Linked DNA regions of Homo sapiens. The protein of the gene in region 1 interacts with the protein of each later gene in a biochemical or structural test. Each region holds a gene or a part of one and is shown on either strand. Other genes may lie near its edges. The genes, in order: SETD7, STAT3 and H3-3A.

Region 1 (3,654 bases):
ATTGCTTGAGCCCAGGAGTTCGAGACTAGGTTTTAGAGAAACCCTGTCTCAAAAAAGAAAACACAAAAATATTAGCCAGATGTGATGACATAGGCCTGTAATCCCAGCTACTAAGGAGGCTGAGGTGGGAAGATGGCTTGAGTCTGGGAGATGGAGGTTGTAGTGAGCCAAGATCGTGCCACTGCACTCCAGCCTGGGCAACAGAACAAGACCCTGTCTCAATAAATAAAAAATAAAATAAAATAAAGATAAAGTGTTTTCTAAGGTGTATTTTCTGTAACATTTTCTGGAAATTCAGTAACAACAGATGGGACATTTGAAATGCAAACAAAAATTAGAGCATTAATTTCCAACCATGGGTTCTGCCATATCTTTTTACTTTAATAGACTCCAGAAATATCATAAAATGCTATCAAATACTCAAAGGTAAGTTAATTTTAATCACCTTAATTTAAACAATATAAACCATAAAATACCTTAAAAAGCAGTTAGTGGAATTGTAGAATCAAGTAACAACAGTGCAGTAAGCTCTCCCAAATTAAAAATTGCTGGACTGGTTTTTACATATGAGAAACAGGAAATAAAACTAATAGCAACAATGAAAATTTCCACTATCTCCCTCTATGTGCCAAAAGAATTAAAAGCAATATATTTTGCCTTTATTAGTGATACAATAAAACCAATTTGTCTCAATTTGTTTTAATCATGATTAATTACTCCTTTCCAAAACAACGCTGAAAAATAATTAATAACGGATTCAAGGGCCAACAATCTAAGCCAATAGTGAGTAACAGTGAGAGGGCATGCCTCATAAACTCTTGGTGTCAGCTGTGGTGACTCTCAGGTTTCACAGCTCCCAAGTTCTAACACAGAATACATTTTACTCTTCATTGTGAAGAGTCACAGTATGTTACTTTCCAGCAGAGTGAACAGTCACACGGCTTACTGGGTAATATATCCAGCACACTCCATGACGAATGTTATCTTTATACTGCCCCTTGAAGATCAGTCTCCCATCTGTGTCATATTCCTGGGCTGGACCGTTCAGCTCTCCGTCTACATACGTGCCCTGGAGAACTCCCCCATCTTCGTAAGTGTAAACTCCCTGGCCCTGCAAGGCATCATCCACATAATACCCCTCCAGGGTGCTGTGAGGAAAGGAAAAACAAAAAGGAATAGTCAGACCATGACTTGACTCTCTTAGAAGAAAGGATCATATCCAAGGAACTGCATGCCCAGCTGTGTCAGCCCTGACATGGATTCAGCGCAGCCTCCTAAATTATCATCGACTGCTAGGAAAAGGTGCTTCATGGACGTGGGTAAGACTGAGAAGAAAGACGGAGATTTAATACCCAATCTCATGGTTCCTGGGAATCCTTTTACTCTGCTGGAGAAAATAGAGAAGAAAAAAGCTACTGATGGAAACTGAGAACAAGTTCACTTGAGTATGTTTTCAGGCAATAGAAATTCTGGTGTTACCTGTTCCACAAGCAAACCATTCATGTCTAATTTCCCTCAAGAGTGCTCCAGAATTCACTGGTAGTTCTCAAGGGTCTTTCAGATGGCTTGTATATAGTAATCTCTAATGATAGAAATGTGGCTTAAAGTGTGTGAATGTCTACACATTTGTTTCAAGTCACTAATGTATTATTTATCATTAATAGCCGTAATTGGTATCCAGTCAAATGAAATCCCTTCCATCTCCTTGGAAGACATATGGGGATTTATTTAAGTATATCTATATATCTATGTATGTATGTATGTATGTATGTATATCTATGTATATACATACATCCATGATCATGGCCAGTAGGGGCAAGTAAGGAAGACTGAATGCTCCACCCTGCTGATATCATTAGCATCCTGATAGTTTGAGACCCACGGTCCTATACCAGAAGAAAGCTCACAGGGATGCTCACGTGATTTTACCAGCACTTCTCCATCTCTCTCCTTGTAATATATATTTGCAAGTTCAGGAACATGTTTTCATTGTTATCCTCTGAAAGGCCCTATGCAATGAAACACCCAAAATTCCCTTTAAGTACTAAAATTTGGAATAGGGAAAGACCAACTCAAATTATTTTTAAAATTTAAAATGTAAGAAAATTTTGAAACAAAGACAGCTTGATTATTTTAACATAGGCAGAGAGTATTTATTCATTAATTCAACTAGTAATTTTTTTTTTCGAGAGAGGATCTTGCTCTATTGCCCAGGCTGGAGTGCAGTGGCATGATCATGGCTCACTGCAGCCTCGACCTCCTGGGGCTCAAGCCATCCTCCCACCTCAGCCTCCCAAGTAGCTGGGACCACAGGTATGTGTCACCACACCGGGTTAATTTTTGTTTTTTTTTGTAGAGATGAGGTTTTGTCATGTTACGTATGCTGGTCTCGAACTCCTGGGCTCAAGGGATCCACCCAACTCGGCCTCCCAGCCACAACTAGTCAACATTTACAGTGTGCCTTCTCAGTAGCAAGCATTGTGTGAGGCTCTAGAGCGGATAAGGAACAAAACAAACACAATGGTATAGGAGAGACTGGCAAGACACACTGTGAACTGGAGCAGATGGGACGCAAAGCGGGCCATCAGGACTTAGGTGGCTGCACCTGACTCTGTCTGGTAAAGTCTTGACTTATTTCAATGAACAACTGTGAATGATCTATAATTATTAAATGAAAAGCAGATTCTAAATAATGATAGCTTCTGGTTAAAAGGTAATTATACTATTTGTAGTATCCCAAGGAGATAAATAGTTTTCTTTCAGTTTTATTTGTACTATCAATGACAAATAGGCTTCCTAAATTCATGAAGAGAATAAAGTGCACTTTAGCATAGCTCTTGCATAAATAATCAAAATTCTAAAACAGTGAGGTTGGAAGTAATGAGATTCAACTGTCATTAGACTCCCACAATTAAAAAAAAAATCATTGGTGAAGGGTACTAATCAAGTGACATAATGATGTAATTTATGTAGTGCAAGAAACTATTCATTTATCTTCATTTTTAGGATTGCCAGGTATAATACAGGATTCCCAGCTAAGTTTGAATTTCAGATAAACAACAAATAATTTTTTAGTTTATGAATGTCCCAAATAGTGAATGGGATATAATTATACTTACTTTTTTTGTTGAGCAAATTCCAATTTAACTGGGTGTCCTGGATTTAACTAGATTTTTATTTGCTCATCCTGGCAACCCTATTGACTTTGGACTCTCAGCAGCATTCAAAATGTTCCTGTGTGAGTTTGGGTAGAATATTACTCCCTGACAGACTAGTCTGCCAATATTTCTCAGGGTTATGATCAAATCTACAAGAAACAGGTCTTGCAAATCAGACAAAAAATAATATGGACTTGCAGACATTTCCCCCAACTGTATTCAGTGGCTTGTCCTAACCTCCCTTACCCATGGAGCCCATCATCCCATCTATCAGAGTACGAAGAACAAACTGCTATTTCCCTCTTAGCCCAACTGACTCAAAGTACACAAATGCAAACTCTTAAGGCATTGGAAAGCAAATCTTACTGCGTTATTTTTTCAGCCATCTGCTTGAGGCCACAGCTTAGCTTTCTTGGCAACTTTTAATAGTAAGTTAGATGAAATCTGATGACAAAAGAGGGCATATTACACACATAAACTGGGTTCTCCAGGGTGA
Region 2 (3,654 bases), on another chromosome or scaffold:
TGACCTCCTGGGCTCAGGCAGTCTTCCCACCTTAGCCTTCTCAGTAGCTGGGACTACAGGCATGCACCACCACACCTGGCTAATTTTTAAATTTTTTATAGAGACAGGGTCTTACTTTGTTGCCTGGGCTGGTCTCAAATTCCTGGGCTCAAGGGATCATCCCACTTCGGCCTCTCAAAAGCTCTGGAATTATAGATGTGAGCTGCCGTGCCCAGCCCAGGATCTTCCTTTATATGCTTTTCTGTAATTTGCACTTTTACCTTCATCCAGCATATCTTACTGCAACCCTTCCTGTGCAAGGCCCTATAGTGAGCATGTTGCACCAGCTTGCCTTAGGAGAAACTTGAGATACAGAGCCTGCACTGGAAATTTAGCGCAACTCTACATGAGAATGCCTGTCTATTCATATCCTCACTAACCCTGAGTGTTGTTAATTTACTGAAAGCAGTTTTAAATGCTTCCTGACCAGGGAACGAAGAAGCTTAAGTTCTGGGAATGGGAGGATAGAAGTGCCAGAAAAGAGCTCAGGAGTTCAGAAATCCCTGCAGCGGTCCCCCTCCCTCTCCTTTCACTTTCTGTCTTTCTGGTCTTTTGGTCTTTGTTACACTAGTGATAAACCATCAAAGAATGATGGAATGATGCTAACTTCTCTCTTTTTTTAATTTTTTTGAGACAGAGTCTCACTCTGTCACCCAGGTTAGAGTGCAGTGGCATGATCTTGGCTTACTGCAACCTCCTCCTCCCAGGTTCAAGCGATTCTTAGTCACAACCTTCCAAGTAGCTGGGATTACAGGCCCATGCCACCATGCCTGGCTATTTTTTTGTATTTTAGTAGATCGACCTGCCTCGGCCTCTCAAATTTTTGGGATTACAGGTGTCAGCCACTGCACCTGGCCTAATATCTCTATTCTTGGAGATAGATTTAATGAGCTTTTTCTCCCTCTCTATTCACTTATTCCTTGTGCATGTTATCAATATTTTGAAACATAATGTCATGTCCTTTGATCAGTTGAAGGCTGACATTGAAAAGGCTTATGGGGATTGGGTGTTGTGGCTCACGCCTGTAAATCCCAATGCTTTGGGAGGCAGAGTCGGGAGGATCACTTGAACCCAGGAGTTTGAGACCAGCCTGGGCAACAAAGTGAGATCCCATCCCTACAAAAATTTAAAAAACTAGACATGTGCCATTACACTTCAGCCTGGGTGACAGAGTGAGACTCCATCTCAAAAAACTAAACTAAACTAAACAGGCATGGTGGCACACACCTATAGTTCTAGCTACTCAGGAAGCTGAGGTAGGAGGATCACTCATGTCCAGGAGTTGGAGGAGGCAGTGAGCTATGATCATGCCATTGCACTGCACTAGGCCACAGAGTGGGACCCTGTCTCAAAAAAAAAAAAAGAAAGAAAGAAAAGAAAGGGCTCATGTAGTTCAAGCCCTTCTCTTCATGCAAGGGGATGCTAAGGCCCATGATGGTGAAGGGCCTGGCAAAGCTTGCACAGATAGTGTGTGACAGAGCTGGCTCAAACCCATCTTTGGGAGCTGTCTAATCTCTTTTTCTGAGTCTTTATGTTCATAGACAAGTTAGGATGAGTAAAGTAAGTGCTAAATTCCATATTTCGTGTTCTGCATATCTGGGCTCAGATGCTTGTCATTTTCCAGTGATAACTCCATCAATGCCTCCTAGTGGTATAAATTTTAATACTTCTTGTGTGCCCAGCCCCCTCTTAGAAATTTGAGATTTTAGGAAGGGACTAGTAATAAAAGGTAAAATAAATTATTTTCTGGCCAGGCATGGTGGCTCACACCTGTAATGCCAGTACTTCGGGAGGTCGAGGCAGATGGATCACCTGAGGTCAGGAGTTCAAGACCAGCCTGGCCAACAAGGCAAAATCCCATCTCTACTAAAAATGCAAAAATTATCCGGGAGTGGTGGTGGGTGCCTGTAATCCCAGCTACTTGGGAGGCTGAGGCAGGAGAATCACTTGAACTTGGGAGGCGGAGGTTGCAGTGAGCTGAGACTGTGCCACTGCACTCCAGCCTGGGCAACAGAGTAAGACTCTATCTCAAAAAAAAAAAAAAAAAAAAAAAGGCCAGGCGCAGTGGCTTACACCTGTAATCTCTCAGGAGGCTCAGGCAGGAGAATCACTTGAACCCGGGAAATGGAGGTTGCAGTGAGCCGAGATTGCACCACTGCACTCCAGCTCAAAAAATAAATAAATAAATAAATTATTTTCTTTTTTTATTTATTTTTTCAGCATCCACCCAACATGGTGAAAAATTCCTCTTTTCTTAATGTCACTGAACTGTAAACTTAAGATGAAAAATTGTAAATTTCATGCTATATATATTTCACCACAATAAAAAAATTCCTTGTTCTTATTGTAGTGGTCTCCATGTCTTCAGTATTTCCTTCCCCTTCTCCATCTCACCTGTATACATTCACTTTGGTAATTAGCATCTTTCTTAATTTATTGGCAGGATAACGTCATTAGCAGAATCTCAACTTCAGACCCGTCAACAAATTAAGAAACTGGAGGAGTTGCAGCAAAAAGTTTCCTACAAAGGGGACCCCATTGTACAGCACCGGCCGATGCTGGAGGAGAGAATCGTGGAGCTGTTTAGAAACTTAATGAAAAGGTAATTTAGCATCCTTGTCCCTTTCCCTCATCTAAAAAATACCTAAAGACTCACGTGGTAGAGTGAGAGGCGGGCTGACTTCTGGTCATGGCCGTGGCGCGTGAGCCCATCTTCTCTTTCCTCAGTGCCTTTGTGGTGGAGCGGCAGCCCTGCATGCCCATGCATCCTGACCGGCCCCTCGTCATCAAGACCGGCGTCCAGTTCACTACTAAAGTCAGGTAGGCCATGCCACTTCCATTTCCAGTAGAGATTTTACTGAGGGACACTGTTAGGGTGAGGGTAGAGTTGGTGGCCAGGGTCATTCTTTCCAGGTGTGGTGTCACAGGCAGTACACTGTTGCGGGGTTGAAATTTGTTGCCATACTATCTGCTTGCTCTCTGATTCTGATGTCAAAAGCAAAAGAGCAGTCATCTTTTTGAAGGTACCTGGGCATATTCCTATGATTGTAGACCTGGAGTCTCAGGCCACAGCTTCTCCTTCTGCCCAAGGGACAAAATAATGTCATCTATTTTCTGTTCTTTGAGGCTACTCTTCCCTGTGGATTTTAAGGGAAAGAGTAAGGCTTAGTGATGGGGAAGCTGAGAGGCCCCAGGGCAGGTGGGTGGTGGGCCTGTAGGGTGAGGTGTTACTTTCACACTCAAGTCAGAACAGGTGTGCTGGGGTTTTGACCTTCTGCAGCAAAATTTCCCTCCTCAGAAACTTAGTATGGTGTTCGGTTTCAGGATTAATAGAACAAAATGCCAGCTGCACAGCATGTGTTCCTGTAATATTTTTCATTATATGGCTTTGATTATCCTTTTGTGAATCTCTCACAACTTTAAGTTGTTAGTTCTTAGATGTTTTCTCAGTACCTTTGGCTTGAAGGAGTGATACTCATCTTTTGTTTTTGTTTGAGACAGGGTCTCACTCTCACCCAGGCTGGTGTGCAGTGGCATGATCTCAGCTCACTGCAACCTCCATCTCCCAGGTTCAAGTGATTCTTGTGCCTCAGCCTCCTGAGTAACTGGGAATAG
Region 3 (3,556 bases), on another chromosome or scaffold:
TCGGCTTACTGCAGCCTCCGCCTCCCGGGTTCAAGCAATTCTCCTGTCTCAGCCTCCCAAGTAGCTGGGACTACAGGCACATGCCACCACGCCCAGCTACTTTTTGTATTTTTAGTAGAGACAAGGTTTCTCCGTGTTGGTCAGTCTAGTCTCAAGCTCCTGACCTCGGGTGATCTGCCTGCCTCGGCCTCCCAAAGTGCTGGGATTACAGGCGTGAGCCACCACGGCACCTGGTCTGGAATTTTTTTTATTAGAATAAAAATGCAACTATAAGACTGTTTTCTCCCTTAATATATCTTCAGCAGAGAAATAACTTTTCCTTATAGAAAAGGAGAGAGAGCCAACTAACCTATCATTTCATGCTCCAGATCCAAAACTGTTGGATTTATGATTATTTTTTAAAATGGTAATTTCTCCATTTCAAAATGAGTAAGCAGGCCGGGCATGGCGGCTCACACCTGTAATCCCAGCACTTTGGGAGGCTGAGGTGGGCAGATCACCTGAAGTTAGGAGTTCAAGACCAGCCTGGCCAACATGGTGAAACCCCATCTCTACTAAAAATACAAAATTAGCTGGACGTGATGGTGCATGCCTGTAATCCCAGCTACTCGGGAGGCTGAGGCAGGAGAATTGCCTGAGCTCGGGAGGTGGAGGTTGCAGTGAGCCGAGGTTATACCACTGCACTCCAGCCAGGGCTACAGAGCAAGACTCAAACCTCAAAAAACAAAAACAAAAAGAGTAAGCAGATGTTTTGGCTTAGACTAAAAGATTCTTCAGCTTTTCAGACAGCTATAAGTATACTAAGAATTTGAGTTATGAGTTAATTCTAAGTGGAAACGCCCCTTTTTCCTCTTCACAAGTTAAGTGTCAATGAGTGATTCATACACTGTCATTTTTAAGTGGTAGTAGGAATAAGATAACTTGAAAGGATCTTACAGTCAAATGGGAAAAACCAGAGAAATCGATACTAGTACTAGAGGGCAACAAATGCTGTTACAAATTGGGGTACGTAGAGGAAGGTACTTGGTAGAGGACAGGGGCATGTTTCCGGGGCATAGATCAAAGTATATAAATAAGGAACTGCCAGGCCAGTTGCGGTGGCTCACTCCTGTAATCCCAGCACTTTGGGAGGCCGAGGCAGGAGGATCACGAGGTCAGGAGATCGAGACCATCCTAGCTAACACAATGAAGCCCCATCTCTACTGAAAATTAGTCAGGCGTGGTGGTGGGCGCCTGTAGCCCGAGCTACTCGGGAGGCTGAGGCAGGAGAATGACATGAACCTGGGAGGTGGAGCTTGCAGTGAGCTGAGATCTTGCCACTGCACTCCAGCCTGGGCAACAAAGAGAGACTCCGTCTCAAAATAAATAAATAAGGAACTGCCGGGCGCGGTGGCTCACGCCTATAATCCCAGCACTTTGGGAGGCCAAGGTGGGTGGATCACGAGGTCAGGAGTTCGAGACCAGCCTGACCAACATGGTGAAACCCCTTCTCTACTAAAAATACAAAAAAGTAGCCAGGCATGGTGGCGCATACCTGTAGTCCCAGCTACTCGGGAGGCTGAGGCAGGAGAATCGCTTGAATCCGGGAGGTGGAGGTTGCAGTGAGCCGAGATCGCGCTACTGCACTCCAGCCTGGGCGACAGAGTAAGACTCCATCTCAGAAAGAAAGAAAGAAATACGGAACTAACTTGTGATATGTTCTGGAATCAAAAGTACTCTTATGATAAAACAGGTATGAAAGGGAACATAGATGAGAAGCATGTGATAAAAACCACTTGTTCACCATGTTATACTACTGGACAAGGCAGAGGTTCACATACTGTGTGAATGGGATTCAGAGTGAGGAGGAGACTAGGCTGGGATGGGGTATTTGGATTGGACATGATTGCGTTTATAAGAATGAGAGTGTTAAATTGGATTTCTTGCTTTATTTGTGACATTTCAGTTTATTAGAAATCATGTTACCATTAGAAAAATTGAAGTTTCCTAGTAACAAAGTAATTTGATTTGTGTAACTTGATAAAAGATTTACTGACTTAAGCTTTTGTTTTTTTTCATAAGCTGCTTTTGAGCTTTGTCCCACAGGTTGTAAAATGTAAGCATTTGGTAAAATTGTCAGCATCTTGCCCAGTCATTTTTTTAAAGGGTTCAAAAACCTTTTTGTTTTAATTCGTATAGTTGGGTCTTAACTATTGGAAATAACATCATCAGTAATTTTTTCTTCATTCCTTTTGCAGGAGGCAAGTGAGGCCTATCTGGTTGGCCTTTTTGAAGACACCAACCTGTGTGCTATCCATGCCAAACGTGTAACAATTATGCCAAAAGACATCCAGCTAGCACGCCGCATACGTGGAGAACGTGCTTAAGAATCCACTATGATGGGAAACATTTCATTCTCAAAAAAAAAAAAAAAAATTTCTCTTCTTCCTGTTATTGGTAGTTCTGAACGTTAGATATTTTTTTTCCATGGGGTCAAAAGGTACCTAAGTATATGATTGCGAGTGGAAAAATAGGGGACAGAAATCAGGTATTGGCAGTTTTTCCATTTTCATTTGTGTGTGAATTTTTAATATAAATGCGGAGACGTAAAGCATTAATGCAAGTTAAAATGTTTCAGTGAACAAGTTTCAGCGGTTCAACTTTATAATAATTATAAATAAACCTGTTAAATTTTTCTGGACAATGCCAGCATTTGGATTTTTTTAAAACAAGTAAATTTCTTATTGATGGCAACTAAATGGTGTTTGTAGCATTTTTATCATACAGTAGATTCCATCCATTCACTATACTTTTCTAACTGAGTTGTCCTACATGCAAGTACATGTTTTTAATGTTGTCTGTCTTCTGTGCTGTTCCTGTAAGTTTGCTATTAAAATACATTAAACTATACCTGCTTTTGGTCTTTATTATAGCCTTGCCCTACAATTATATTCCAAATAATTTCAGTATTAAGTCCTTTAATAGTCACTTTATATCTGAGACGTGAGACTTATTGAGAGAGAAGGAAAGTATAGACTTGGTGGCAAAAGGAACTTGGCTTTATTTCTAATTTTTAGAAGCTTGCCACTACCCAGTGGTCTTAACTCTTTGGATGTGTTGTCTTCTGAACCAATAATTCGAAAAGCTAATCAACAGGATCACCTGGAAATAGTGGAATCTGTAAGTAGATTGAACTTTCATGAATGTTTAATAACAAATGAGAGTGTGTAACAGTCTTTAGCTCAAAAATTAATGCATTCAAGATCTGGCTATTTTAAGATGCTCTATTAGTTAACCCTGAATTTATTCAAGCACTAATAGTTAATTCTTAGCCCTGTTTTATTTAGTGTTGGTACAATTAATGTGAAATGAGGATAATTAAACCTTCTAAGACTTTTAACACATCCCATTAGTTGTAACGTTTGAGTGTTTGAAACTGCCCTAGAAGTGATACGAAATGTTAATAACTATGCCAAGAATAGACGCATGTCAGTAAGATACGACACTGGGCTTGCATTCTTACTGCTCTTAAACATTTAGCCATAACTTAATCTTTTGACTATAGGTGACTATAAAA

What was found.
Region 2: of the proteins of SETD7 (region 1) and STAT3, one has a biochemical effect on the other in vitro, tested with the Homo sapiens proteins (one study listed by BioGRID).
Region 3: of the proteins of SETD7 (region 1) and H3-3A, one has a biochemical effect on the other in vitro, tested with the Homo sapiens proteins (one study listed by BioGRID).

What each region holds. Positions count from the first base shown.
Region 1 is NC_000004.12:139,532,219-139,535,872, forward strand, and holds part of SETD7 (histone-lysine N-methyltransferase SETD7), read right to left. Parts: intron 1,149-3,654; coding exon 947-1,148; coding exon of another isoform or gene 911-946; exon of another isoform or gene 347-910; intron 1-346. UniProt on the Homo sapiens protein: Histone methyltransferase that specifically monomethylates 'Lys-4' of histone H3. H3 'Lys-4' methylation represents a specific tag for epigenetic transcriptional activation.
Region 2 is NC_000017.11:42,332,878-42,336,531, reverse strand, and holds part of STAT3 (signal transducer and activator of transcription 3), read left to right. Parts: intron 1-2,482; coding exon 2,483-2,641; intron 2,642-2,766; coding exon 2,767-2,859; intron 2,860-3,654. UniProt on the Homo sapiens protein: Signal transducer and transcription activator that mediates cellular responses to interleukins, KITLG/SCF, LEP and other growth factors. Once activated, recruits coactivators, such as NCOA1 or MED1, to the promoter region of the target gene.
Region 3 is NC_000001.11:226,069,114-226,072,669, forward strand, and holds the end of H3-3A (histone H3.3), read left to right. Parts: intron 1-2,237; coding exon 2,238-2,366; 3' UTR 2,367-2,906; downstream 2,907-3,556. UniProt on the Homo sapiens protein: Variant histone H3 which replaces conventional H3 in a wide range of nucleosomes in active genes. Constitutes the predominant form of histone H3 in non-dividing cells and is incorporated into chromatin independently of DNA synthesis.